4 linked regions of the Homo sapiens genome follow. The protein of the gene in region 1 interacts with the protein of each later gene in a biochemical or structural test. Each region holds a gene or a part of one and is shown on either strand. Other genes may lie near its edges. The genes, in order: PLAU, KAT8, SERPINB2 and SERPINA5.

Region 1 (7,309 bases):
GAGTAAGGAAGCAAGAATGCTGCCTCCCTCCACCCCTTCCACAGCCTGCTGGGGGCCTGCAGCTCCAGCAATCCCCCTATCATGTTACATGCCCAGAAGCGGCTTTCAGTGCCTGCCGTTGCCAGCTGGCTTCACCCTTCACACTAGACACTCAGGAAGAAGGGGTCCTTAGACTCAAGGAAGCTATGTGACCAGCATTCCGTACCTCCTTCCCAGAACTGTTGAAGAGTCCGTCTGCCCCATGTGTAGGAGGGAAAGAGGCGCTTCAGGCCACACAGGGACACAGACAAGAGGGAGAGGGAGTAAGCATAGGCAATGTGGGAGTGAACAGCACATGCAGCTGTGGGTCCAGCTGCCTGATTGCTGGGAACTGCTGGCCAAGGATACAGCATCCCCATTGGCCTGGAATCCTGGAATGGACTCCAGCCTGACTTGGTCTTCTGAGTCAATCCAGCCACAGTCAAAAAGGGGAGGCAGGCACTCGATGTAGGAATTACAGTTTACACAGTTCCTCTTCCTATCTCTAGCATCCAGAACTGCGCCCAGCACACAGTAGGTCCATGATAAATATGGAATGAATGAATACTTTTACATGCAAGCATGATCTCAGCCAATCTGCAGAGTGAGGCACAGGCTGGACAGGTGGATCACCTGAGGTCAGGGGTTCAAGACCAGCCTGGACAACATGGTGAAACCCCATCTCTACTAAAAATATAAAATTAGACCGGCATGGTGGCAGACACCTGTAATCCCAGCTACTTGGGAGGCTGAGGCAGGAGAATTGCTTGAACCCAGAAGGTGGAGGGTGCAGAGAGCCAAGATTGTACCATTGCACTCCAGCCTGGGTGACAAGAGCGAGACTCCACGTCAAAAAAAAAAAAAAAAAAAAAAAGAGTTAAGCAACTTGCCTAAGATCATTCAACTTTGATGTAGCAGACTGAAGGCTAGGCACTGTGGTCTTTCTATAGTGCCATGCTGAGCATTCTTCATATACAACACAGAATTGCATCCTATGACTCCATGGGAACTTCCTTTTGGGTCAGAAAATAGTCCTTAGGGGCTGAGTTTCCTGGACTTAGTCTCAGGGCCAGGTTTGGATACCCTGCCCCTCCCTGCGCATCTGGCATCTGCCTTCCCTTTTATGAGAATCTCCTGGAAAGGGCTTCTCCAGCAGTCTGTGTTGCCACATCTGACTCAGGAGCTCTGTACCCTTGAGACACAGAGGCAGGGGTTGGTGGCTTCACCCTAGGAGTCAGGAAAAGAATGAAATCATACACATTCAGTTCCTTATTCTCTTACCCTCAACAGAAATTTCAGACAGCCTAGACCACAGAGACAGTTCTTGGAATTCAGGCAAACAACTAATTTGTATTACAGCGGGTGCAACTTAAGAGCTCAGAGTCCATAGTCCGAGCAGTCTTTCTGGAAGGAGGTCTCCAAAGTCAGGAGGAGGGCTCCCCTGAGCTGGATCATCTTAGCTCACTGGCCCCTCCCTTCACAGCGTTCTGTCTTTTATGGAGACAGTGAGGTATAGCGCATAGGAACAAGGATCAGAAGACGCTGGGTTTTAGTGCTGGCTTTGCTGCTCATCAACTGTGTATCTTCTCTCCACTTCATTTTCCATATCTGCAAAATGGGAACAACAATACCAGTCTATATCATAAGGCAGTTATGAGTTTAAAGAGAAATGGTTTACATTAATGTGCCTTGAAGCACAAGACAGAAATACAATATAAAAAATATGGCTGGGGCCGGGCACGGTGGCTCACGCCTGTAATCCCAGCACTTTGGGAGGCCGAGGTGGGCGGATCACAAGGTCAGGAGATCGAGACCATCCTGGCTAACACGGTGAAACCCCATCTCTACTAAAAATACAAAAAATTAGCCGGGTGTGGTGGCAGGCGCCTGTAGTCCCAGCTAGTCGGTAGGCTGAGGCAGGAGAATGGCGTGAACCCGGGAGGCGGAGCTTGCAGTGAGCCGAGATTGTGCCACTGCACTCCAGCCTGGGTGACAGACCGAGACTCCGTCTCAAAAAAAAAAAAAAAAAAATATGGCTGGGCGTGGTGGCTCATGCCTGTAATCCCAGCACTTTGGAAGGATGAGGTGGGAGGACCCCTTGAACCCAGAAGCCCAGCAAAACCTTGTCTTTAAAAAAAAAAAAGAACTGTGCACAAAGATTTCAGAGAGTGCTAAAGATTAGCGCATGGATAAGGAAGTTCTGTGAAGAGTTGAAGTGCTAGGTGAAGAGGTGGCACGGGGGAGGAGGGGGCGGAAGGGGAGAAAGGGTGTCACGCTTCATAACGGTCTCCAAACCTCTTTGTCCAGGAGGAAATGAAGTCATCTGCTCTCAGCAATCAGCATGACAGCCTCCAGCCAAGTAATCTGGAGTCATGAGAGCTGCTAGGGGAGCAACATGAATCATGACGGTCCCTGGGAATTTCCTGATAACTAACCTGGGAGTTTCGGGGTAAGTCCTCAGGCTGCAGCATCTCTGTTTATGTTCTGGTCACGTTTATTTACAATTAATGGGTTCTCAAATCCAAACAAAACTGACCACAGTCTTCTAGAGGAAGTAGCAAGGTTGGCTCTGAAGCCTATAGCATCGCTGACTCAGTCTGTCCCCTGGAAGGCTGGCAGCTCAGCAAGCACAGAAGTCTCTCCAGAAGACAGTGGGTCACCTGCCTCCCAAAAGCTGAAAGGCTAACTTGTACTTTCCCCAGCAGGCAGCTGGCACCCTGAGCCCTCGGCTGGGGCAGAGCAAAGGAGCCTTCCTCCTTCCTACCTTCCTGGCACTCTCCCTGCCTTCCTTCTGTCACTCTCAGGTGGACCCAGACCCAAGGTCCAGATTTGCAAGGCAGGAAAATGCTGCAGGCCTAGGCTGGGAAAGGGCCCAAAGCCGCTAGTGGATTGCTGGGACTCAGCCTCCTCCTTCCCACTAAGAGAGCGAGTCCTACTGGGTTCAAAATGACCCCAAGCCCTGGTTCCTGACACTAGGGGAAAGAGATGGGGGTGACAGAATCACAGAATCCCTGCTATGTTCCTCCAAGTGTGCCCAGAGATGCGTGTGTGTGTGTGTGTGTATACACAAATGTCTGCTTATCCTCAGGCAGGAAGGGTGGATGCAGTCATTTACACATGGTCTGTTTTTCTGGAGGACAATTTTATTTGATAAACAATTGTTTCTATCTGAATAGAATAAACAAGGCTCTATGATGAAGTAAAACACTAAATACACATGCATTAAAAAATGCATAATTATCTTTTTGGAATGGGCTATACAGAGATGTGCTTTTTAAAATGTTAAGAGTGTAAAAGGACAAACAGTGAAAAATAAATCTTCCTCTTATTTTGTCCTCCAGTCTCCCAATTCCTCTACTCAGAGGTGAGAACAGAACTTCCACACCCTCCAGAACCTCCACAGTTAGAACTGTCTACATGTTTCCATTGTCTTTACTTTTATTCTTGCCTGCACAAATAAATGAATTGCTCATTATGGAAACTTCCCAAAAGACCCGTTAACACTTCAATAGGAAGCACCAACAGTTTATGCCCTAGGACTTTGTTCCCACAATCCTGTAACATCATATCACGACACCTAACCCAATCCTTATCAAGCCCTGTCAAAAACGGACTTTAAACCAAGCTGCAAATTTTCAGTAATCTGGCCTTGCCTTTCCCCCTCTGATAGCACCATCAAACAAACCCCCTTACTGCCGAAAGCAATAAGCCCGGCTTTGTTCCATCCACTGGTTGTGTTGGTGATATCTGGGGACTGCCACTGAACAGACGCACAGAGGGAGCCCCTACAGGCAGGGGTTTTTCTGTCTGTGCTTCTGGGAGAGTATGTCTCGTACATTTGTCGCGTTGATGAAGACTTCACAGCTCCATCAGCTGCGGGCAAGGGGGTCTGAGGCAGTCTTAGGCAAGTTGGGGCCCAGCGGGGAGAAGTTGCAGAAGAACTGATTAGAGGACCCCAGGAGGCTTCAGAGCTGGGCGAGGTAGAGAGTCTCCTGTGCGCCTTCTCTCCTCTCTGCAATTCGGGGACTCCTTGCACTGGGGCAGGCCCCCGGCCAGGTGCATGGGAGGAAGCACGGAGAATTTACAAGCCTCTCGATTCCTCAGTCCAGACGCTGTTGGGTCCCCTCCGCTGGAGATCGCGCTTCCCCCAAATCTTTGTGAGCGTTGCGGAAGCACGCGGGGTCCGGGTCGCTGAGCGCTGCAAGACAGGGGAGGGAGCCGGGCGGGAGAGGGAGGGGCGGCGCCGGGGCGGGCCCTGATATAGAGCAGGCGCCGCGGGTCGCAGCACAGTGCGGAGACCGCAGCCCCGGAGCCCGGGCCAGGGTCCACCTGTCCCCGCAGCGCCGGCTCGCGCCCTCCTGCCGCAGCCACCGGTGAGTGCCGCGGTCCTGAGATCCCCGGGCCGGATGCGCGGCGGCCCCAGCTCCCGAGCGTCTGCCTCCCCCGCCCTGGGCTGCCCGGGCTCCCTGGGCTCCCCGGCGGCTGCACGGAGTCAAGGCGCCCCGTCCCGGGCGTCCCCCGCGGGTGCCGATCCAGGCTGCCCGGAGTCCGGAGCCCAGAGAGGAGAGAGACAGCTGGGGAGCCTGGTCACCGCGGGCATCTCCCCTGCGCTGCAGTCGCCCGCCTGGCCTGCCTTCCCGTTCCTCCGCCTCTTGCCCTGACTTCTCCTTCCTTTGCAGAGCCGCCGTCTAGCGCCCCGACCTCGCCACCATGAGAGCCCTGCTGGCGCGCCTGCTTCTCTGCGTCCTGGTCGTGAGCGACTCCAAAGTGAGTGCGCTCTTGCTTTGACTGATGCTGCCCAAGGACCTCTGATCAGCACCAGGGGAGAGGAGGGGCTGCTCAGGGAGCTGGGGTCCTCCGGATTCCATCCACAGCAGGGCCAGACTCTCCCCAGGAAATGGGACAGGGTGGCAGCGGAGGCTTGAGAACCACGGGGGTTGGCACTGGCTGGCAAGGGAGGAAGAGGCCGCCGGGACTGCCCCAGCCTGCGGGCATCTGGTAGATGAAGCTTGCTTGGGTCAATCCATTTCTCCTGGCTGGAAACCCATGGTCTTCCATTTGAGAACTAGATACGAACAGGGTGAGGCGAGAGGGAGAGGGAAGAGTGGGTTTTGGGATTGGGGCCAGTTTACCCTCACCCTGGAGTCCCTGGAGCATGGGACCTTTGATGAAGCCTCCTCCCGAATCTCTTCCAGGGCAGCAATGAACTTCATCAAGTTCCATGTGAGTATCCACCCCTACAACAGTTGGCTGCACAGACAAGTTGGGAAGGCTTCAGGGGACATCCCCTCCCTGCCCTCTGCTGCAGGGCTGCGCCACCCCTTACCACTTCCACTCCCCCTCGCTTACCCCACCTTTGTTCTCTCCAGCGAACTGTGACTGTCTAAATGGAGGAACATGTGTGTCCAACAAGTACTTCTCCAACATTCACTGGTGCAACTGCCCAAAGAAATTCGGAGGGCAGCACTGTGAAATAGGTATGGGGATCTCCACTGCAACTGGGAGAGAAATTTGGGGACAGGGAGGGATGGGTGGGAGGCAAGAGCAGGCAGGAGTTAGGAGCTGGAGGTAGGGTGGGTGACATCTTCATCCCTATGTGACAAGCATAAACACACACACACGCTCACGAAACAGTGGCCACACAAATGTGAGGTGGGGTTGGAAGGAGACCCTGTCCAGTCTTCTGGCAGGTCTGAAACGACATCTTTAAAATGTCCGTTGGCAGCCGGGCATGGTGGCTCACGCTTGTAATCCCAGCATTTTGAGAGGTCAAGGTGAGTGGATCATTTGAGGTCAGGAGTTCAAGACCAGCCTGGACAACATGGTGTAACCCTGCCTCTACTAAAAATGCAAAAATCAGCCTGGCATGGTAGTGGATGCCTGTAGTCCCAGCTACTTGGGAGGCTGAGGCAGGAGAATTGCTTGAACCTGGGAGGCAGAGATCTCAGTGAGCTGAGATCACACCACTGCACTCCAACTGGGCGACAGAGCAAGACTCCATCTCAAAAAAAAAAAATAAAAGTTAGTTGGAATGTTCTTCTCTTTCTCATATTCTCTCATCCTCCTGTCCCCTTGTAGATAAGTCAAAAACCTGCTATGAGGGGAATGGTCACTTTTACCGAGGAAAGGCCAGCACTGACACCATGGGCCGGCCCTGCCTGCCCTGGAACTCTGCCACTGTCCTTCAGCAAACGTACCATGCCCACAGATCTGATGCTCTTCAGCTGGGCCTGGGGAAACATAATTACTGCAGGTGAGGTGGGGGCAACAAGGACCAAAAGCCCTCCCTACAGCTTCCCAGAAACCTTGTTACCATCCCCTTCTCCCAGAGGGCTGGCCATAGCACAAGAGAAGTGCGGCCTCTGGTTGAGTCTTCCCTGAGGGGAGGAGGCAGGGAAGGCCCTCTGGGTTGGAATGACATCCCCTATCTTTCTGTGTTGCCAGGAACCCAGACAACCGGAGGCGACCCTGGTGCTATGTGCAGGTGGGCCTAAAGCTGCTTGTCCAAGAGTGCATGGTGCATGACTGCGCAGATGGTGAGCATCACTGACCTGCTGATGACAGTGGGGTGGAAGGGGACAAACTTACATGTCCCCTTATTCCATCACAGGAGGACTGAGGAGGTGGGGGGTGCCCGAGAGGGATGCTTTCTCCTACCTGCCTCCCTAAGACATCCCTCTGTTTGTCCTCCAGGAAAAAAGCCCTCCTCTCCTCCAGAAGAATTAAAATTTCAGTGTGGCCAAAAGACTCTGAGGCCCCGCTTTAAGATTATTGGGGGAGAATTCACCACCATCGAGAACCAGCCCTGGTTTGCGGCCATCTACAGGAGGCACCGGGGGGGCTCTGTCACCTACGTGTGTGGAGGCAGCCTCATCAGCCCTTGCTGGGTGATCAGCGCCACACACTGCTTCATGTACGGCCCTGGGTTTCTCCTCTTCGACTCTTCTGCCCCACCCCAAGCACATCCCTTTCTCCTTCCCAGCAAAGTGTTCCGCCTCATTTCTCCCTCATCTGCCCCTGTCCATGCAGCCCATGGCCTTGGGGACAAGTCGTGCTTTGAGGCCTCTAGGGAGGGAAGGAAGAAGTGGCAGATTTCATGGGACTAAGCTGTTTGATGGGTATCTTCTCCCACAGTGATTACCCAAAGAAGGAGGACTACATCGTCTACCTGGGTCGCTCAAGGCTTAACTCCAACACGCAAGGGGAGATGAAGTTTGAGGTGGAAAACCTCATCCTACACAAGGACTACAGCGCTGACACGCTTGCTCACCACAACGACATTGGTGAGGGG
Region 2 (7,383 bases), on another chromosome or scaffold:
GTAAGTAAGAGGAAGTAGGTAAAGTCCCTGACACACTACAGGAGCTTAAGAAATGGGATTTGCTATGGTTTTGGCACTGGGGCCCGAGAGACCCAAGGGAACTGGCAGAGAAGCTGGGCCTCCTGGGCCCGTGGATGGGAAGGGATCCGGACCTTCTGCACATGGTTGATCTCATCATGCTTGCGCTTTTGGTTGCGAGTGATCTTGCGCTCAGGCTGCTCTGCGAGCTCGCTCAGGTACTTCTCTGAGTTCTTCTGTACAGCATCCTTCACTGTCTTGGTCAGCGCCAGCCGGTTCTTGTCTACCCACTCGTCCAGCCGCCGGTTAACTGTAAGTATGGGCCATAAGAGTGCTGCCAGGGCAGCCAACTCCCTGCACCCACGCCCAGATGTGCCAAGCCACTCACAGCCCACGTAGTGTACATAGAATTCCTCTCGGCCCTCCTGGTCGTTCACTCGAGACTGGATCACTTCAGCAGAATCTGTGATGGAAAAAGGCTAGGGTCATCAGGAAGGTAAGGCTGGAACAAAAGGAATCCTGCACACTGAGAAGCAGTTTCCAGAGTTCAGGGCCACACATCAGCTAACCTCACTGGTCCACCTCTGCCATTCTACTCAATCACTGCCACAACTGTGAGGTGGATCAGGTTGAGGCTGTTATTCTCATTTTACGAATGAGAAAATAACTGGCTGGGTGTGTGGCTCACACCTGTAATCCCAGTACTTCTGGAGGCCGAGATGGGCAGATCACTTGAGGCCAGGAGTTTGAGACCAGCCTGGTCAACATGGCAAAACCCCATCTGTACCAAAAAGACGAAAAAAAAAAAAGCCAGGCATGGTGGCACACACCTGTAATCCCAACTACTCGGGAGGCTGAGGCAGGAAAATTGCTTGAACCTGGGAGGCAAGGCTGAGGCAGGAGAATTGCTTGAACCCGGGAGGCAGAGGTTGCAGTGAGCCGAGATTGTACCACTGCACTGTGGCCTGGGTGACAAGAGCAAGACTCTGTCTCAAAAAAAAGAACCCCAAAAAACAGAACAAAACTGAGGCTTACCTAGGGTCACAGATTTGAAAAGTGGTAAGAGCTAATACTTAACTGAATTTAAGTCTGACTCTAAATTCAATGCTCATTTTACCACATACCCGCAGTTGTTCATTTGTTCAGGGATCATGAGTGCTGGCTCTGGATTAAGATAACCTACATTAATGTATAATTCCAGGGCTGGGCATCGTGGCTCACGCCTGTAATCCCAGCACTTTGGGAGGCCGAGGTGGGTGAATCACGAGGTTAAGAGGTCAAAACCATCCTGGCCAACATGGTGAAACTTCGTCTCTACTAAAAATACAAAAATTAGCTGGGTGTGGTGGCGCACAACTGTAGTCCCAGCTACTCAGGAGGTTGAGGCAGGAGAATCGCTTGAATCCGGGAGGCAGAGATCGCAGTGAGCCAAGATGGCGCCACTGCACTCCAGCCTGGCAACAGAGAGCGATTCCATCTCAAACAAACAAACAAAAAAAAATACACAAAATTCCAGCTCCCTACTTCCTAGCTATGTGTAACTGAGCAAGTTATTCCATCTTTCTGAGCCTCAGTCTCTTCATCTGTGAAAAGGGATAACAGCTGGGCACAGTGGCTCATGCCAGTAATCCCAACACTCTGAGAGGGTGAGGTGGGAGGATCACTTGAGCCTAGAAGGTCTAGGCTTCAGTGAGCTGTCATCGTGCCACGGCAATCCCACCTGGGTGACAGAGCGAGATCCTGTCTCAAAAAAAAAAAAAAAAAAAAAGACAAAAGGGATAATAGTACCAACCTTAGAAGGTGAATTAATGCCTCCAAAATTTTTAGCAGCGCACCTGACAATTAGCAGAGCATTCAATAAATGAGTAAGGCAACCACTACGTGTCTGGCCCTATGCTGTGTTGTTGCCGGGTACAGAGGACACAGTGATGAATCACAAGAAGTGCTGCCCTCCAGAAGTTCCCAGTATGATGGAGGAAGACAGAGAGAGAAAATTACAACATAATGTTACAAAAACTATGACTGAGGTAGGAAAAAAATGTTGCAGGAACATAGAGAAGGGAACCACTCACTTTGCCTGAAGGGGAATCAAGGATGACATCACAAAGGATATGAAGCTAAGAGGATGAGTAGGAGCTAGGCAGGCAAACAAGGAGAAAGGGAAGAAAAAGCATTCCAAGCAAAGGGCACAGGTGGTAAAGGGCGTGTGGTCTTCAGAGGGCACAGTGTGTTCTGGCCTGGCAATGCCCTTTCCTAGTGTTGGCTAGAAACTGGAGAGGTCACAAAAATGAATGCCACCCTAAGGAGTTTGGGGTTAATTTTGAAAATGAGAGAAGGCAGCAGAACTTTAGGAAAGGGAAGCCTGTTGTTTCTGGAAGGTCTTCTCTCTGCGGATGGCTGCCAGGGACAAATGGAAAAAGAAGACGCAGAGACAAGAGAGGGTGAGGAAGCAGCGTTAGCAAGAAAAAGGAATGAAGCCTAAGACTGGGCAAGGAAGTGGAATGGGAACAATCCTGGTGAAGGCCTGAGCGGTGGGTTTGTAGGCGTCGCTCGGCATAATTCAAGGTCAACAGCCTCCCACAACCCGGCTGGTTTCTCAGCGCCCGGAACGCGGCGTTCTTTCCTCAAGCCCCGCCCCTCCTCCTCTCCACTCCCAGCCCCCGGATCTTGGCCTCACTGACAGCCTGTCCTCAGGCCCCGCCCCACCCCCTGGCCCTGAGCTCCGCCCCGCCCCCAGCCCTGGGCCCCGCCCTCACGCCAGGTGCTATCCGGTCGCCGGCACAGGTACGTTTCTCCGATCTCCACCGTGACTTCCGGCTCGCCGCGCGCCGGGGTCGGCGGAGAGACGCGGCCCGGGGATGGGGCGGTCCCCTCAGCGGCCGCATTCTCCCCGGGCCCGGGCTCGCCCTCCCCCGCGACCCCTGAAGTCCCCGCCGCAACCGCCGCAGCAGCTCCCTGTGCCGCCATCGCGGGAAGGGAAGTGACGCCAGAATCGGACGCCACGCAGTTCTTTTGGCTCCGGGTCAGCAGTGCGTGGGGCGGGCTCCTCAAGGTTTGAGGGCGGGGTCTGTGATGTAGCAGGAGCCGATTGGCTTCTGTGGCCGTCCCCGCGGCCCCGCGAGTTGGATGTTGAGTGTGCGGCAGTCTTGGAGCTCCTGGTTTTCCGTGCGGACCTGTGGCTGCAGCCTATGGGTGAGGAGAGGAGACAGACTTACCTCATGCGATGACTCAACTCAACCTTTTTTTAATTTATTTATTTATTTATTTATTTATTTATTTTGAGACGGAATCATGCTCTGTCGCCCAGGCTGGAGTGCAGAGGCGCGATCTCGGCTCACTGCAACCTCCGCCTCCGGGTTCAAGCGATTCCTCTGCCTCAGCCTCCCGGGTAGCTGGGACTGCAGGCGCGCGCCACCACGCCCATCTAATTTTTGTATTTTTAGTAGAGACGGGGTTTCACCATGTTGTCCAGGATAGTCTTGATCTCTTGACCTCGTGATCTGCCAGCCTCAACCTCCCAAAGTGCTGGGATTATAGGCGTGAGCCACCGTGCCCGGCCAGCTGAACCTTTTTAAAGGCCCTGGTACCTGCGGAAGCCAAGATGTGCCAATTTTCAGCGGGCGCTGCCCCCACTTTAACAGGGCAGAGCCAGAGCGGCCGCCCTGGTGGCCTGGAGCCGCACACTCGCGCTGGCCTAATGTCGCTCCCCGCCCCCCCCCCTTTTTTTTTTTTGAGATGGAGTCTCGCTCTGTCGCCCAGGCTGGAGTGCAGTGACGCGATCTCGGCTCACTGCAGCCTCCGCCTCCCGGGTTCAAGCGATTCTCCTGCCTCAGCCTCCTGAATAGCTGGGATTACAATCGCGCGCCACCACGCCCGGCTATTTTTTGTATTTTTAGTAGAGAGAGGGCTTCACCCTGTTGGCCAGGCTGGTCTCGAACTCCTGACCTCAGGTGATCCGCCCGCCTCGGCCTCCCAAAGTGCTAGGGTTACAGGCGTGAGCCACCGTGCCCAGCCAGTGCCCCATTTTTGAAGGTTGAAGAGACTACTTCCCCTATTTGGGATACAGTTGGTGCGGGGAAAGCAGAACGGGTGTGTCCAGGGACAGGCCATAATTCACCCTCACAGGATAAAGTCTAAAGAAAGGACGAGTTGGGCGGGGCGTGGTGGCTCACGCCTGTAATCTCAGCACTTTGAGAGGCCGAGGCGGGCGGAGATCGAGACCATCCTGGCTAACACCGTGAAACTCCGTCTCTACTAAAAATACAAAATTTAGCCGGGCGTGGTGGCACGCACCTGTAGTCCCAGCTACTCGGGAGGCTGAGGCAGGAGAATCGCTTGAACCCGGGAGGCGGAGGTTGCAGTGAGCCGAGATCCCGCCATTGCACTCCAGCCTGGGGACCAAGAGCCAGACTCCATCTCAAAAAAAATAAAAAGGCCGGGTGCGGTGGTTCACGCCTGTAATCCCAGCACTTTGGGAGGCCTAGGCGGGTGGATCACGAGGTCAGAAGATCGAGACTATTCTGGCTAACACGATGAAACTCCGTCTCTACTAAAAAAAAATACAAAACAATTAGCCGGGCGTGGTGGCGGGCCCCTGTAGTCCCAGCTACTCGGGAGGCTGAGGCAGGAGAATGGTGTGAACCCGGGAGGTGGAGCTTGCAGTGAGCTGAGATCACGCCACTGCACTGAGGGTTCTGTGAGAGTCAGTAAAGGTTAAAGCCATTTATATGTGTATGGTCCAACCATACACAATCGGCCCTCCATATCCGCATGTCCCACCTTTGGAGATTGAACGAAGAGCGGGTTGAAAATACAGTGTTGAGGTATGGTGGCTCACACCTGTAATCTCGCACTTCAGGAATCCAAGCAGGAGGATCGCTTCAGGCCAGGAGTTCAAGACCAGCCTGGGCAGCATAGAGACCTCCTTTCTACTAAAAATTTGGGGGAAAAAAAAAATTAGCTGGGCCTCGGGGCCCGCACCTGTAGTCCCACCTACTCAGGAGGCTGAGGCAGAGGGATCGCTTAAACCCAGGAGGTCGAGGCTGAGTGAGCTATAATCCCTCCACTGCACTCCAGCTTGGGTGACAGAGACCCTGTCTCAAAAAAAAAGGGGGGAAAGAAAAGGAGGCTGGGCGCAGTGGCTCACTCCTGTAATCCCACCACTTTGGGAGGCCGAGGCAGGCAGATCACCTGAGGTCGGGAGTTCGAGACCAGCCTGACCAACATGGAGAAACCCCATCTCTACTAAAAATACAAAATTAGCCAGGCGTGGTGGCCGCATGCCTGTAATCCCAGCTACTCGGGAGGCTGAGGCAGGAGAACCGCTTGAACCTGGGAGGCAGAGGTTGTGGTGAGCTGAGATTGTGCCATTGCACTCCAGCCTGGGCAACAAGAGTGAAACTCTGCCTCAAAAAAAAAAAAAAAAAGACTGGGCGCGGTGGCTCACACCTGTAATCCCAGCACTTTGGGAGGCCGAAGCAGGTGGATTACTTGAGGTCAGGAGTTCAAAACCAGCTTGGCCCACATTGTGAAACCCCGTCTCTACTGAAAATACAAAACAGTCAGGGGTGGTGGCGTGTGCCTGTAATCCCAGCTACTTGGGAGGCTGAGGCAGGAGAACTGCTTGAACCCAGGAGGTGGAGGTTGCAGTGAGCCGAGATCGCGCCACTGCACTCCAACCTGGCCGACACAACAAGACTCCATCTCAAAAAAGAAAAAGAAAAAAGAGGGAGGAAGGGAGGAAAAGAAAAGGAAAGGAAAGGAAATATTGTAAGGATGCAGAACCCACAGATCTGAAGAGCTGACTTCATATCTGCTGTTTGGCAGGGCCAACTGTAGGACTTGAGCGCCTGCAGATTTCGGTATTCACAGGCGGTCCTGGAACCAATCCCCAGCAGTTAAGCATGTATAACTATCAATCATATAACTATGTAACGGTTGAACTATCCGTCTTAGCAATATACAAGTGTATTGCAAAGTGCCAGACCGGGTAGGTACTCAGTAAACATTCCCTTTGGCTATTCTCTGAATCTTGTTTGATTTATAATGTGGTTATTGGGCTTGGAAACAATTCTGAGAGGAGTGGAATGCTCAGGGCCTGCGGATGGGTCTCTCAGAGGTTACAAATCAAGAAACATCCGACAGGCATGGTGGCTCATGCCTGTAATCCTGGCACTTTGGGAGGCTGAGGTGGATGGATCACGAGGTTGGGAGTTCGAGACCAGCCTGGCCAACGTGGTGAAACCCCATCTCTACTAAAAATAGAAAAATTAGCTGGGTGTGGTGGCACGCGCCTGTAATCCCAGCTACTCGGGAGGCTGAGGCAGGAGAATCGCTTGAACCTGGGGTTGGGGGGGGGTGGGGCGGAGGTTGCAGTGAGCGAAGATCCAGCCACTGCACTCCAGCCTGAGCAACAGATTGAGACTCCGTTTAAAAAAACAAAACGAAACAAAACAAACAAAAAAACAATGTAGGTGCTCCACCCAGATCCTCTGGGAGTTCTTGCTGTTTCTGTGTGCCCAGATTACCTTTGATGTGCTTTCAAAGACCCACACCAGCACCTGAGGCTCTTCTTAAAAAACCATCCTTAGGTTAATAGAGCTGTTCACTTTCCCAACTGACTTTAACCAGTGACTGCCAAGTGGAGAAATTAATCAGTAACTCTGAGGTTTAGCTCTCTTACCTTCAACCCTGAGGCATAATTGACTGGTTCTGGGCTTTTGCCTGAGGTCACATCCTTGCTTGGCTTCCTCCCCTTCCCCTTCCTACTTCCCCTACTCTGTTCTGGGAGCACTTTCTTAAGAAATCACGTGGACATGAATCCTCTCAGGGACTCCAACCAGAAACATCCCTTCCCAGCTCAAAACCCACTCATGGGCCAGCTGCAGTGGCTCATGCCTGTAACCCCACCACTTTGGGAGGCTGGGGTGGAAGGATCATTTGAGCCCAGAAGTTCAAGTCCAGCCCGGGGCAACATAGGGCTTTGTAGAAACCCTGTTTCTACAAAAAATTTTAAAATTTAGCCTGGCATGATGGTCCAAGCTACTCAGAAGGCTGAGGTGGGAGAATCTCTTGATCCCAGGAGTTCAAGGCTGCAGTGAACTCTGCAGCCACCATATTCCAGCCTGGGCAACAGAGCAAGACCCCATTTCTAAATAAATAAAAACTCACCCATGGATCCCTATGGCTCAAGATAAATCCCATGTTTCAGGGCCCTGGCCTCTGACTGCTGCCTGCCTCTCCAGCCTCAGCACCCTGCCTTGCAGCTGGCGGGATTTTTCAGTCTAGCAAGTCACTGTGGTTTCCTAGCCCCTGCCATTTGGCTTCCACATACAACTTCCCCTCCATCCCCGTGAAGGGTAGGAG
Region 3 (6,716 bases), on another chromosome or scaffold:
GGCTTGTTTGGTATGTATTTTATGTAGCCTTTGTCATTTTCTTGCTTTAAAGGAATATATTCGACTCTGTCAGAAATATTACTCCTCAGAACCCCAGGCAGTAGACTTCCTAGAATGTGCAGAAGAAGCTAGAAAAAAGATTAATTCCTGGGTCAAGACTCAAACCAAAGGTAAATCCAAGAAAATATTTTATTTACTTCTTTCCAGTTAGAAAACTCTGATCTATCTTTTTCCATCCATGAACTTAGTTAGCCCTCACCCCTTTACAATTTGTCCAACTGCAGTTACTTTGGTGGATGTGAATTTATTCCTGATTAGCTCAGTGGTGTTTTAACTGAGAAGAAATAATTGAGGCCTACTAATAGAAGACATATGTTTAGTACTTAAATATTTGATTTTGGATATTGCTTGAGGATAGAATATGAAAGGAGGCAGAAGCTTTCAAAATAGGAAATATCAGCATTGAAATAATTGTGAGTCTATGCCCACTGTGGACAAAAAGAAAACAAGGCTTGACCCTGAGCTTAGTAAATGGTGTGAGCTATAAAGAATACAGGCAGTGGAGGAGGGAAGAATCATAAAATTATTTTCACTCTTTCTTCTCTTTCACCATTCAAAGCCAATCCATTGTCAAGTTTTTTTGGTCTCTGCTTCATCCCTCCTTGATTATCTAAGTCACGTCTACCATTTTAACTCATGCTTTTAATTGTTTCACAGGCTCCTGCCTCCCTCTGTATATTTTACAATGAATAAATTATTTAATTGAATCATTTATTCATTGTAATTTAGTTTATTAAGTCATTTATTCATTGAATTCATTCATTCATTAAGTTCTATTAAGTTCATTCACTTAGTCAACAAATATTTATCCACCACACACCATATTCCAGAAACTATATGTGGAGATAAAGATAAAAATGGTAAATCCTGCCACCATAGAGCCTATAGAGGAGGGATTCAGTCATGTTGGCAATTGCTATAGAGTAGTAGTCAGTGCTTTCATTGAGAAGTACAGGTGCTATGTGGGAGTACACAGGAAAGGCATCTGACTGGATTTAAAAATGATTAAATTGTAATTGGGAAGACAGGCTGGAGCTGGCCAGGTGGAGGGTGCATGCCTGGGGGGAGATTTCCAGACAGAGTGCACAGAATATGCAAAGGTCCAGAGGTAACCCTAAGGAGAAGAATAGAGTCTGGTCTGACTGCAGTGTGGAGGGCCAAGGGAAGGAGGTGAAATTAAAGAGGTGATGCAGTACACTTATTATGCTATTCCCACACTAAAAACTGTCAGTGACCTCCTACTGTCCTCAGGAGAAGGTCTCATTCTTTACCTTGACTTCTGAGTTCTCAGTAATCCAGTTGACTGTGCTTGGCTACCACTGGCCCTTGGAGCTCCTTAAACACTCATTGCTGCCTCTAGACTTTGTTTCTGAGGATGCCTCAACTACAGGATTTAAGTTGCAGTTTAAATTGCAGCCAAAGTCTTACTCTTTCCTGGAAGTGACTCCCAATTACTTCCTGATCTTTTCTTCTTCTCATCTCCTCATCTGCTTTTTCAGCTTCACAAGTCACATTAGTGTTAGCCATATATGGCCTTAAACAATTATGGAACTGATTTTTGTTAGTTTGTTTTGCTTTTCCTCTCAGGCTCTAATTATTTTTGGGTAGGTCCAGTATGTCACACTTATCCTATGCCCCCACAAAAATTTGCACAGTTTTTTGCTGACAGTGAAAATCCTTCATTCTTCTGAATTTCCAGGTAGAGTTGTAGGCCTTAAGTAAACAATTGCTGAATAATAACATATAAATGTATTTCTAAGAAACAGAGATGATTATGAATTCAGAATTGTGTAAGTATTTCATTCATTTATGATCTGTTAGGATTGAAAATGTCCTAAGAGAGCTCCTATCCATCTTACCAATTTGTGGTTGGAGCATCCTGTTCCCAGGGGATTAGCCGGCTCCCCTAAGATCCCACTGGTAGCGGTAAAGCCAGGGTTGCTTCTTCTTCTGATCCTTAGTCTAACTCCAGAATTCCTCAATCGGATGTTTAAAAATTTTATAACTTATTTTTTTAAGGATTTTCATTTAACTCTTATGTTTAAGACATTGTTTCAAGAAATAGTTTGGTGTCTTGCTTTATTAATTACCACAATGGAAAATGCACATAAACTAAGTGCTATGGGATTTCAAAAAATATATATTTATTTGTTTATCTGAAAATAATTGATTTCCTTTTAGTTCTTCATTTTCATTGTGGATTTGTGAAATACTGTTCTAAAATATTGACAGACCACTGACACAAAGGAAGCAGAGAAAGATGATTTAAATCAAAAGTTCAAGTAAAAATGGAGAGCAAAATTAAAGAGACACATGGAAGTTTTGCCTTCTTTAAAGAATGGCATGAATTGTTTTTCTCTTTAGACATTGTGCTAAATGGCTGTAAGTCAATCAGTTATTTTGCCAAAATGCCAAGCAGCTATTTTGGCAGATTGTTTTACCAGCTTTTGTAAGAATTGGAGAGAATTGTCTGTTTCATCATGCTATGATCAAATACTAGTTTTATCATATACATCACAACATTACTATACCCCAATACTAACCAAAAATTTTAATAGCTTGGGAAATATATTGAATGTATATATTAAATGAATACATTGAAGATGAAACTGATGCAAGGCAGGCAAGCTCCAAAGTGGGGCTTAGCCTTCAAGGGTTCTTGGCTTCACCCAGGAAAGTATTCAAGGGTGAGCTGGAGGTAGGGTAGAAGAAAACAGCTTTATTGAAGTGGCAGTATTACAGCTCCATGATTCCTCCTGCAGAGAAGGGCTACCCCAGGCACTGTGCTGAGAGGCACAGCTCAGGGCAGTTTGGGGGTCATATTTATACCTACTTTTAATTACATGTAGATTAAGGGGCAGTTTACGCAGAAATTTCTAGGGAACGGGGAATAACTTTTGGGTCATCAGGTCATTGCCACAGAAAGAGGTGGTAACTCCAAGGTGTTGCCATCACAATGGTAAACTGACATGGTACACTGCTTCCATCCTGTCCCTGGTCCCCATTTTAGCTAGCCCTCAATTTGGCCTGGTGTCTAAAACCTGCCTCCAGAGTCAGGTCCCACCTCCTACTTCAAAACCACATTGACCTATTAATTTGTTAAGAGTCTTGTATTTGTCAGTAGTTTTGACTGTGGAGGCAGAATTTTTACAAGCTTACCAGCATTGTAACGTTGGGAAGACTGCTAACCTGGTGGTGTCCTTTTGCATAAAATGACACTAATAAAACCCACCTAATAGAGTATCAAAATAATATATTTTGATGCTTGGAATACTGCAGAGCGAGTACTAACTATAAACAAACTGCTTCTTAAACCAATTTCATTTTTTTAAATGACCACACTCATTTGTCATTGTTTCTGTCAATCTTCTCGGGCTTACTCCTTCACTCCCTTCTCTGTATGATCATAGTACTCAATATATTATTTAGCTCAATTACAGAAGTTATCACACAGGGTTTCACAACTGATTTTGAATGTCTCCCCCAGTGTTCTAGGCTCATCCAGGATAATTCTTCCTTTCTCATCTCTTGTATCTGCACTACTCTTAATTTAGGTCTAGTATATTTTTTACAAAACGTTTTTGAATAAATGAGTAAGTCAGATCCTCAGACTATCTAGACCAGATCTAGCAGTACATGATATATTTTGGAAAGGCACTATTATATTCCCTAAGAACCTCTCTTTCACTTCCCTCTGATTTGAATAACTTTCAACTGCCAAGCTTTGAGAAAAGAATATAAAAGGGAGTGAAAATCTCCATTCCAAACTTGATAGGCGGTCTAAATTTTAAATGCATTATTTCTTCATTTTTTCTTGGATTTTGCAAGCTTTTGGGAAATTTGTTTCAATTTTAATTTTGCTTTAAATAAACCTAAAAAACTTTAGCTTGAAGATTAACAACTCTGCAATTTGAAGAATTTAGTTTGATGGCTACTCAGAAGATTCAGTAAGTAATTTCACAGTTCTTGATTATGAAACCTAAATATATGTTATGTTTTCTGTAGGCAAAATCCCAAACTTGTTACCTGAAGGTTCTGTAGATGGGGATACCAGGATGGTCCTGGTGAATGCTGTCTACTTCAAAGGAAAGTGGAAAACTCCATTTGAGAAGAAACTAAATGGGCTTTATCCTTTCCGTGTAAACTCGGTATGAGACAACAAAATACATCTTCCTAGCATATATTTTAGGGCTTTTGACAAGATATAGACAGAAAAATTAGAGACCGCTCATTATAGACTTGCTAGTTAGAAGTTATGCATGTTGGACAGTTGATTGACTCTTTAGAAACAGTATAGGTAAAGGGGAAGACTGTGGCTTTTTAATTATACATGCCCAGACTCCAACGTTGGCTCTACCACTTATTTCAAAGGGCTGTAAATATTGAGACATGGCACGGTTCCTGGCCCATAGTAAGAACTAAACAAGTGTTTTAGAATTATGGTTGTCATTACCATTGTTGTCCATCTTACTAAATAATGGGTATAAAGTTGAACAAGCTAATAACATCAGAGTACCCACTGTAAGGATGTACAAATAATTTATTTTGTTGATTTAAAAAAATCACATTTATCCTACACTAAAGTAGAACCAATCCTCCTTTATGTCTAATTGTAAATCTCTTGATATCTTATAATCGACTTCCATATTTTACCTTTTAATAATATTAGGCTCAGCGCACACCTGTACAGATGATGTACTTGCGTGAAAAGCTAAACATTGGATACATAGAAGACCTAAAGGCTCAGATTCTAGAACTCCCATATGCTGGAGATGTTAGCATGTTCTTGTTGCTTCCAGATGAAATTGCCGATGTGTCCACTGGCTTGGAGCTGGTAAGACATTCAGATATTTAAGTTTCTGGGGCTATACCTACCTTTCGTGAGATGAGATGAATATATACTCCTTACAAATGGTGTGGTAATTTCTCATGGAAATATATGAAACAGTTGATAGTAAATATGGCATGCCTCTACATTTCATTCAAAGCCTTAACTATGTCATACGTGTTACCTTCTTGTAAAAATCTGACCAATCTGTTAACTTTCTATATCACCCACAATATAGTAAAGTCACTGATTTTTAATATTAGACTTAAAGTTGTTTTCCTTCTTTCTAATACTTGCTGTATTTTCTTTTGTTTGTTTTGTTTTGTTTTGCTTTGCAGCTGGAAAGTGAAATAACCTATGACAAACTCAACAAGTGGACCAGCAAAGACAAAATGGCTGAAGATGAAGTTGAGGTATACATACCCCAGTTCAAATTAGAAGAGCATTATGAACTCAGATCCATTCTGAGAAGCATGGGCATGGAGGACGCCTTCAACAAGGGACGGGCCAATTTCTCAGGGATGTCGGAGAGGAATGACCTGTTTCTTTCTGAAGTGTTCCACCAAGCCATGGTGGATGTGAATGAGGAGGGCACTGAAGCAGCCGCTGGCACAGGAGGTGTTATGACAGGGAGAACTGGACATGGAGGCCCACAGTTTGTGGCAGATCATCCTTTTCTTTTTCTTATTATGCATAAGATAACCAACTGCATTTTATTTTTCGGCAGATTTTCCTCACCCTAAAACTAAGCGTGCTGCTTCTGCAAAAGATTTTTGTAGATGAGCTGTGTGCCTCAGAATTGCTATTTCAAATTGCCAAAAATTTAGAGATGTTTTCTACATATTTCTGCTCTTCTGAACAACTTCTGCTACCCACTAAATAAAAACACAGAAATAATTAGACAATTGTCTATTATAACATGACAACCCTATTAATCATTTGGTCTTCTAAAATGGGATCATGCCCATTTAGATTTTCCTTACTATCAGTTTATTTTTATAACATTAACTTTTACTTTGTTATTTATTATTTTATATAATGGTGAGTTTTTAAATTATTGCTCACTGCCTATTTAATGTAGCTAATAAAGTTATAGAAGCAGATGATCTGTTAATTTCCTATCTAATAAATGCCTTTAATTGTTCTCATAATGAAGAATAAGTAGGTATCCCTCCATGCCCTTCTGTAATAAATATCTGGAAAAAACATTAAACAATAGGCAAATATATGTTATGTGCATTTCTAGAAATACATAACACATATATATGTCTGTATCTTATATTCAATTGCAAGTATATAATAAATAAACCTGCTTCCAAACAACAATACATTTGTTGTCATTTCATTAGGTCTGCAGATCATAGACCTTGACTCCTAGGAGTTGAGCATTATGACTCACTTGTGAGAACTCAGAAAAAATAGACAGGATGAAGGAGCCAAGGACATAACAACCTTCATTCAAAAAGACCCAATGTTGAGGGTCAGTGGGATGGGGTTGTATGAAAAATGGGTTAGAGCTGCTTTCTCACAGCAGCAAAGACATAGCAATTCAGAATAGTCTAGGTTAGAGTCCTTTGGGGAAACCACTGTCTAAACATTAAGGACACCAGGATTAATGACCAAGTCCAGTGGTCCAGACACAGAAGAAGGCCTCAGTCATTGAGCTCAGAGTTGCAAGCAGTGAAGATGGGAGATGGGTTGGGTGCAAGAGCAGGAGGGGAAACATAAGATGGCTCTTTCTAAGTGTGTTTGTTTCTAATAGCAGTAATGCTTTTGAATGAGTCAGAGGCAGAGGAGAACATAATTGAAGACCTGAGAAATAAGGCAA
Region 4 (7,000 bases), on another chromosome or scaffold:
GGGTCTCAAACATGTAGCCCAGGAGAGCCTAAGTGAACCTGGGGCCCTCTCCAAACAGATCCTGGGGGAGACTCAGTGCACACCCGGAGAAGCAGCTCCTCCCCATCGGATCTCTAGTGCTTGGCAGGGGGCGGGGTCTTGAGGGGGTGTCCACAACACATGGCAGACTGCAGATGAAGAAACTGAGGCCCAGAGGGGGTGAGGCTTGCCCAGGGTGACCTAGTAGCTGAATAGATGGGAGAATGGAGGCCAGGGCCTCACTGAGACTCTCTGGTCAGCTGCCCCTGGGCTGTATCCAATAAGGAAACTCCCCTGCTTCTGAAGCTGTTCTCGAAATTATCAGCTCAGTGTGACCCTGTGGGGGGTTGAGCCACATTGTTTCTTTAGAAGCATCTCCATACATGGCTGGTTCCAACCCTTGGCAGGAGGGACCATATTGTGCTGTAAAATAGACTCATTTAGAGAAGCCGGAGATTAAAGCACCCACCTATGTCCTTCAAAGCTCTCCAGGCAAGTGCCATGGTGGGAACAGGTAGGGAGTGTCAGTGGGGGGAAGCCCAGACTCTGCTCACTCATTATCTGCAGATTAGGGCTATTGTTGGTGGCTACTAAGTCAGGGATTTCAAAATCAGGAAGATGCAGCCAGGAAAAGAGGAGGCAGGACTCTGCAGAGGAGGCAGGACTCTGCAGAGTCAGAGTGATAACCGAGTCTGAGTCCAAGCTTTGCCAGTGTTAGCAAGCGACTCCATCTCTCTGAACCTCGGATTACCCATCTGTAAAATAGAGCTAGCAGCAAGATGTACCTTTTTGGGTGGTGCAGGGCTGAAGGAGTTGGCACAGTGCCTGAAAGAGGGTGCGGGCAATGCGCCCAACTGCTGTGGCTGCTGGGTTTGGTGCCAGGTTCGATTCTGCAGGCAGAAACTTCTACATGAGGCTCCTTCTCGGAAGGAGCTCAGGACACAATTTGGAGGCTGGGCTGGCAAGGGTGACCTGCTGGAGCTATTCAACTTCACTTAAAGACAGGCCTGCAGTCCAAGCCTGCCCAATTCCTGAGACCATTCTCTCTCCACTGCTGAGCCCCACGGCCACTCTGCAAGGGATTTCCCACCCACCTGTTTGGGGCCCTTTGGAGTTTGGTTTTAATTGGGTCACGGGATGCTGTGACAGGCTGCCCCTGCCTGGTGGGGATCTGGGGTCACTGATGACATTGTGCCCATGGAGAGAGCCCAGCAGAAAGGGATTCCCTCCAAGGCGACACACAGGGCAAAGCTCACATCAGAAGCCAGGCAGGCCCTCTGCACCTGGTAATTAGCCAGCCTGGGTGCTGTCAGGCTCACACGTGTGTGTGTGTGTGTGTGTGTGTGTGTGTGTGTGTGTGTAAAGCATGTACCCTATGGTACAGTTGAGAATATGGAGGCCTCAGATGGGGCTTTTGCCAGAAACTGCCATGCCTACTGCTCACACTTCCATAGCACGTGCCCCCAAGCACCCCATGGTGTAGGTGCTGTTATTATCACTATCTTACAGTTATGGAGCAGTGGCTCAAGGTGTAACTGACTTGCCCAAAATCACACTACAAGGACACAGCAGGGCTGAGATTTGAACCCAGGCAGTGGCTTCAGAGCCTGAGCTGTTTCCTACTGCAGAGGGAGGAGGCAAGACTTCTACCCGTAGCCAGATGGGGAGGCATGGGCACAGGAACGGCTCTTGGGTGAAGTGGAGGGAGGAAGAGGAGGACTGAAGGCCAAGGCCACGTCAGGAGTGATGGGAGACCCCACAAAGGCCTCCCTGAGAAGAGCTAGAGACAAAGATGAGTGCCTCCTCATCTGGAAGATGAAAAGATGTCTTTGCCTGCATGGGCTGCTGTCACAAAGTCCCAGGGGCTAGGGGGCTTCAACAACAGAAATTTCTTTCTTTACAACTCTGGAAGCTGGAAGTCTGAGATTAAGGCACCAGCAGGATTTGTTCCTTCCAAGGCCCCTCTCCTTGGCTCACAGGTGGCTGCCTTCTCCCTGTCTTCACCTGGTCTTCCCTCTGTGCATGTCTCTATCCTGATCTCCTCTTTTTAATTTTTGTGTAAGGACGTAGTCATATTGGGTTGGGGCCCACTCTAGTGACCTCATTCTAACTCAGTCCCCTCTTTAAAAGCCCTATCTCCAGATATAGTCACATTCTGGGGTATTGAAGGTAAGGACTTCAGCATATGCATTTTGGGGGCACAATTCAGCCAGAACAGGAGGACGGTGGGGATGTCCACATGAAGAGGTTCAGGCAGAATTCCTTTAGGAGGGGAAGATGTCTCTCTGTGGGACAAGGGTGGCATGGAGCAGCCCCTGGGGGAAGGAGAAGGGGACAGTTTGCATACTGGTATTCTGCCTACCCCAGGGTGGACACTCACTCAGCGTTTGCTGAATGAACAGGGCAAGGCCAGCAGTGCTGATGGTCCCAGGCATGTAGCTGGTCTGAGTTCATAGAAGGACCACAGCGCCCTGCCATGTGCCAAACCAGGACACCAGAGTGAAGGCCAGAAGCTCACATGGAAGCAGCTTAGTTCCCTGGTAACCTCGAGATGCTGATGAGACAGAGCAGAGCAGAGGGAACCCTCTCCCTCCATATCCCATCCTCCAAAATGTGTCCCTTGATGTGGATGGGTAGACAGGATTCCTGCCCTGGCAGCCAGACCCCTGCCTTGGGTCTGCACCTCCTCTCCCTCCTTCCTCTCCCCGTCATCCCTAAATCTTGTCCTCGAGCCACTGCCACCCTGTGTAAACCCTCATGCCCAGTCTTGCGGGTGCCATCCCTTCTCTTTGAAGCTGAATGGACCAAACATACCCATTGAGTGTTGGGTGGGGACATCTCTGGAAAGTCAGCACCTGGACCAGCTCCACCCCTCTCTGAGGACACCTTCTTTCCCTTTCAGAACAAAGAACAGCCACCATGCAGCTCTTCCTCCTCTTGTGCCTGGTGCTTCTCAGCCCTCAGGGGGCCTCCCTTCACCGCCACCACCCCCGGGAGATGAAGAAGAGAGTCGAGGACCTCCATGTAGGTGCCACGGTGGCCCCCAGCAGCAGAAGGGACTTTACCTTTGACCTCTACAGGGCCTTGGCTTCCGCTGCCCCCAGCCAGAGCATCTTCTTCTCCCCTGTGAGCATCTCCATGAGCCTGGCCATGCTCTCCCTGGGGGCTGGGTCCAGCACAAAGATGCAGATCCTGGAGGGCCTGGGCCTCAACCTCCAGAAAAGCTCAGAGAAGGAGCTGCACAGAGGCTTTCAGCAGCTCCTTCAGGAACTCAACCAGCCCAGAGATGGCTTCCAGCTGAGCCTCGGCAATGCCCTTTTCACCGACCTGGTGGTAGACCTGCAGGACACCTTCGTAAGTGCCATGAAGACGCTGTACCTGGCAGACACTTTCCCTACCAACTTTAGGGACTCTGCAGGGGCCATGAAGCAGATCAATGATTATGTGGCAAAGCAAACGAAGGGCAAGATTGTGGACTTGCTTAAGAACCTCGATAGCAATGCGGTCGTGATCATGGTGAATTACATCTTCTTTAAAGGTAAGGCCCTTGGGCCCAAACCTGCACTTTCTTTGGCTTTTCTGCTGCTTTTATCTAAAGAATACCCAATTCCCTCACATACATAAAAGACGGGGAGTACGTTAAGTTCTTTTGGGTGCCTGTTGAGAAAAATTAAGTAAACAAGCAGCCAGAGAAGGTAAGATGAATGCCTTCTTGCTGTGGATGGGATTAGTGAGGCTGAGATGCTGTTTCCTCCACGGAGGAAGAGCTGGTTGCTGTCTTCGGGCCCCTGGGGACATCTGAAGCCCCAGCTTTCTACAGGCTCTGAAGTATGAACCCATTGTGGCCACCATGGCAAAGACACCAACACCTTAGCCACTCAGGGCAGGACACAGACCCCAGAAGGGCTTAAAGGGCATTTCCCAGTCCCCCGTATCCCTCAGATCTTGGCCCCTCTGCCCTCATAGAGGCCAAGACTCCCTCAGACAAATGCTTGTTCCTCTGAAATGCCTCCTCCTGACTCCTCAGCAAGAGCTGACCTCTGCTTATCTCCCCGACACTCCTTGTAAGCATTCCTGCTCGCCTCTGCAGCTCCTGCCAGTTGCTGACCCTGGGGAAAGCAAGAGTGGATAGAGAGGAGAAGAGAGGAGAGGAGAGGGTGGGAAGGGTTGCGAAGGAAGGTAAATTGTTAACACCTCCCCTTCCTATGGTCACAGATCATGAGTATCTTTGGCCATTTGGGTGGCTATAACAAAATACCATAAACTGGGTGGCTTAGCAACAACAAACATATATTTCTCATAGTTCTGGAGGCTGAGAAGTCCAGGATCAAGGCACTGGCAGATGCAGTGCCCATTCCTTGGTTCATAGAGAGTGCCTTCTTAGTATATCCTTGCTGGAAGGAGGAAGGCAGCTCTCTGTGGTCTCTTTTGTAAGGACACCGATCCTGTTCATGACAGCTCCACCCCCATGACCTAATCAACTCCCAAAGGCCCCCTGTCCTAATACCACCACCTTGGGGGTTAGGTTTCAACATATGAACAATGTGGGGACACAAACATTGAGACCACAGCAGTGAGTGTCGAACTTGGACTCTGAGATTTCCTATCCCCTGGTGCAGGGCAGTCCCCATTACACCAGATTGCTGAGGGCAGCTGGGAAATAAGCTAAGGACGGTATTGACTGGGGTCTTCCTTCGATAACGATTAAGAAGTTGGAAACAGGCCAGGCATGGTGGCTCACGCCTATAATCCCAACATTTTAGGAGGCCGAGATGGGCAGATCACCTGAGGTCAGGAGTTCGAGATCAGCCTGGCCAACATAGTGAAACCCCGTCTCTACTAAAAAATACAGAAATTAGCCAGGCATGGTGGTGGGCGCCTGTAATTCCAGCTACTTGGGAGGCTGAGGCAGGAGAATCACTTGAACCTGGGAGGTGGGGGCTGTAGTGAGCCAAAATTGCGCCACTGCACTCCAGCATGGGTCACAGAGCGAGACTCCATCTCAAAAAGAAGAAAAAAAGAAAAAAAAGAAAAAAAGAAATAAAATAAAATAAAAAGAAGTTGGAAACAATCACTTGTAGCGTTTTGTTCAGAAGTTCCCATAGGAAGGTCAGAGAAGGGTCATTGAAGACTTCCCAATGGGAAAAACCATTCATTTCCAGGATCCATACTAACTTCTTTCTAAAATTTAAATCAAAATATTGGAATGAAAGTGCAAACAGAGAAGTTCACCCAGATATCAGGTAGCATTCACAGCCAGCCACATTTTTCACCCTCTTCACTTGGAGATTTGGTCTTGAGTAAAACGTTAGAGAATCAGAGAACATCAGGGGTCCAGGGCCTCTGAAGATGTGAAAACCAACCTCCTTGTTTTGCAAATGTGGAAGGAAAAGTCCCACGAAAAGTCCAAGAATGTGCCCAATGTTATAAAGAGACTTGCCTTCATATTCAAGAGGTTCAACAGTCACTGCTCTGGGGCTGCCATAAAGATGGTCTCCGCTGGCTATCTTTACTGTCTTCACTCCTTTTATTTGCAGCTGAGAATTTCTAATTCTGACACAAAATTCTTTTTCATTTTTCCCTTTTTTCATCTTTAGCTAAGTGGGAGACAAGCTTCAACCACAAAGGCACCCAAGAGCAAGACTTCTACGTGACCTCGGAGACTGTGGTGCGGGTACCCATGATGAGCCGCGAGGATCAGTATCACTACCTCCTGGACCGGAACCTCTCCTGCAGGGTGGTGGGGGTCCCCTACCAAGGCAATGCCACGGCTTTGTTCATTCTCCCCAGTGAGGGAAAGATGCAGCAGGTGGAGAATGGACTGAGTGAGAAAACGCTGAGGAAGTGGCTTAAGATGTTCAAAAAGAGGTACTTTCAGACTACCCCAGGGCCAGCCTAAACCCACACAGCCCCAGGGAGACACACACGCCCTACCAGGGCCACACAGCACTGGTGGGAAGGACTCACCCAGCCAAGGAGCTGCCTCCAGGCCCAGAGGCATCCTGTGACATCCAAGTCCTGGGGGCCTAGCCCAGTTGGAGGGACAAGAGCTGGAAACTGGGTTCCTTAGGGTGGTGCCAGAGTGGGCAGAGACCTCTGGGCAGCCCACGTCCAAGTCCAGAGCAAGGGGAGGCTCATCCTAGAAAAGAGGCCAGAGGAGCCATAACCACCATTGTTCCTTGGGTTAAGGAGTCCTTTTTTAAAACCATCAAAACTAAGAATCCAGTGCATTATGAATCCAAGGGGTGAGGCTCAGTGTGCCAATGCCCCAGAACAGTCTAAGAAAGCTCCTTTTCCCTTTCCAGGCAGCTCGAGCTTTACCTTCCCAAATTCTCCATTGAGGGCTCCTATCAGCTGGAGAAAGTCCTCCCCAGTCTGGGGATCAGTAACGTCTTCACCTCCCATGCTGATCTGTCCGGCATCAGCAACCACTCAAATATCCAGGTGTCTGAGGTGGGTTCAGAAGCTCCTATGCATCTGCTTCCCAAGGTCTATTCTGTTCTATTCTTTCTATTCTACTCTACCCCATTTCATTCCATTCCATTCCACTCAACTCCACTCCACTCCACTCCACTCCAGTTCACTCTATTCAATTCCACTCCACTCCACTCCAGTTCACTTTATTCAATTCCACTCCACTCCACTCCAGTTCACTCTATTCAGTTCCACTCCACTCCACTCCACTCCAGTTCACTCTATTCCATTCCACTCCATTCCACTCCTCCACTCCTCTCATCCACTCCACTCTACTCCTCCACTCCACATCTCCACTCCACTCCTCCACTCCACTCCTCCACTCCACTCATCCACTCCACTCCTCCACTCCACTCCTCCACTCCACTCCTCCACTCCACTCCACTCATCCACTCCACTCTTCCATTCCACTCCATTCCACTCCTCCACTCCACTCTTCCACTCCACTCCATTCCACTCCTCCACTCCACTCCACTCTATTCTATTCTATTCCATTCCATTCTACTCT

What was found.
Region 2: of the proteins of PLAU (region 1) and KAT8, one has a biochemical effect on the other in vitro, tested with the Homo sapiens proteins (one study listed by BioGRID).
Region 3: the proteins of PLAU (region 1) and SERPINB2 form a complex in vitro, tested with the Homo sapiens proteins (one study listed by BioGRID).
Region 4: the proteins of PLAU (region 1) and SERPINA5 form a complex in vitro, tested with the Homo sapiens proteins (2 studies listed by BioGRID).

Annotation. Positions count from the first base shown.
Region 1 is NC_000010.11:73,906,828-73,914,136, forward strand, and holds the start of PLAU (urokinase-type plasminogen activator isoform 1 preproprotein), read left to right. Parts: upstream 1-4,304; 5' UTR 4,305-4,391; exon of another isoform or gene 4,392-4,697; 5' UTR 4,698-4,728; coding exon 4,729-4,785; exon of another isoform or gene 4,786-5,064; coding exon of another isoform or gene 5,065-5,098; exon of another isoform or gene 5,099-5,213; coding exon 5,214-5,241; exon of another isoform or gene 5,242-5,268; intron 5,269-5,372; exon of another isoform or gene 5,373-5,387; coding exon 5,388-5,495; intron 5,496-6,096; coding exon 6,097-6,271; intron 6,272-6,462; coding exon 6,463-6,554; intron 6,555-6,711; coding exon 6,712-6,931; intron 6,932-7,152; coding exon 7,153-7,301; intron 7,302-7,309. UniProt on the Homo sapiens protein: Specifically cleaves the zymogen plasminogen to form the active enzyme plasmin.
Region 2 is NC_000016.10:31,113,284-31,120,666, reverse strand, and holds the start of KAT8 (histone acetyltransferase KAT8), read right to left. Parts: upstream 3,004-7,383; 5' UTR 2,986-3,003; coding exon 2,775-2,985; intron 2,609-2,774; exon of another isoform or gene 1,811-2,608; intron 482-1,810; coding exon 407-481; intron 329-406; coding exon 153-328; intron 1-152.
Region 3 is NC_000018.10:63,897,675-63,904,390, forward strand, and holds the end of SERPINB2 (plasminogen activator inhibitor 2), read left to right. Parts: intron 1-52; coding exon 53-170; intron 171-4,065; coding exon 4,066-4,208; intron 4,209-4,729; coding exon 4,730-4,894; intron 4,895-5,226; coding exon 5,227-5,631; 3' UTR 5,632-6,214; downstream 6,215-6,716. UniProt on the Homo sapiens protein: Inhibits urokinase-type plasminogen activator. The monocyte derived PAI-2 is distinct from the endothelial cell-derived PAI-1.
Region 4 is NC_000014.9:94,584,426-94,591,425, forward strand, and holds part of SERPINA5 (plasma serine protease inhibitor preproprotein), read left to right. Parts: intron 1-2,920; 5' UTR 2,921-2,937; coding exon 2,938-3,556; intron 3,557-5,615; coding exon 5,616-5,886; intron 5,887-6,323; coding exon 6,324-6,471; intron 6,472-7,000. UniProt on the Homo sapiens protein: Heparin-dependent serine protease inhibitor acting in body fluids and secretions. Inactivates serine proteases by binding irreversibly to their serine activation site. Involved in the regulation of intravascular and extravascular proteolytic activities.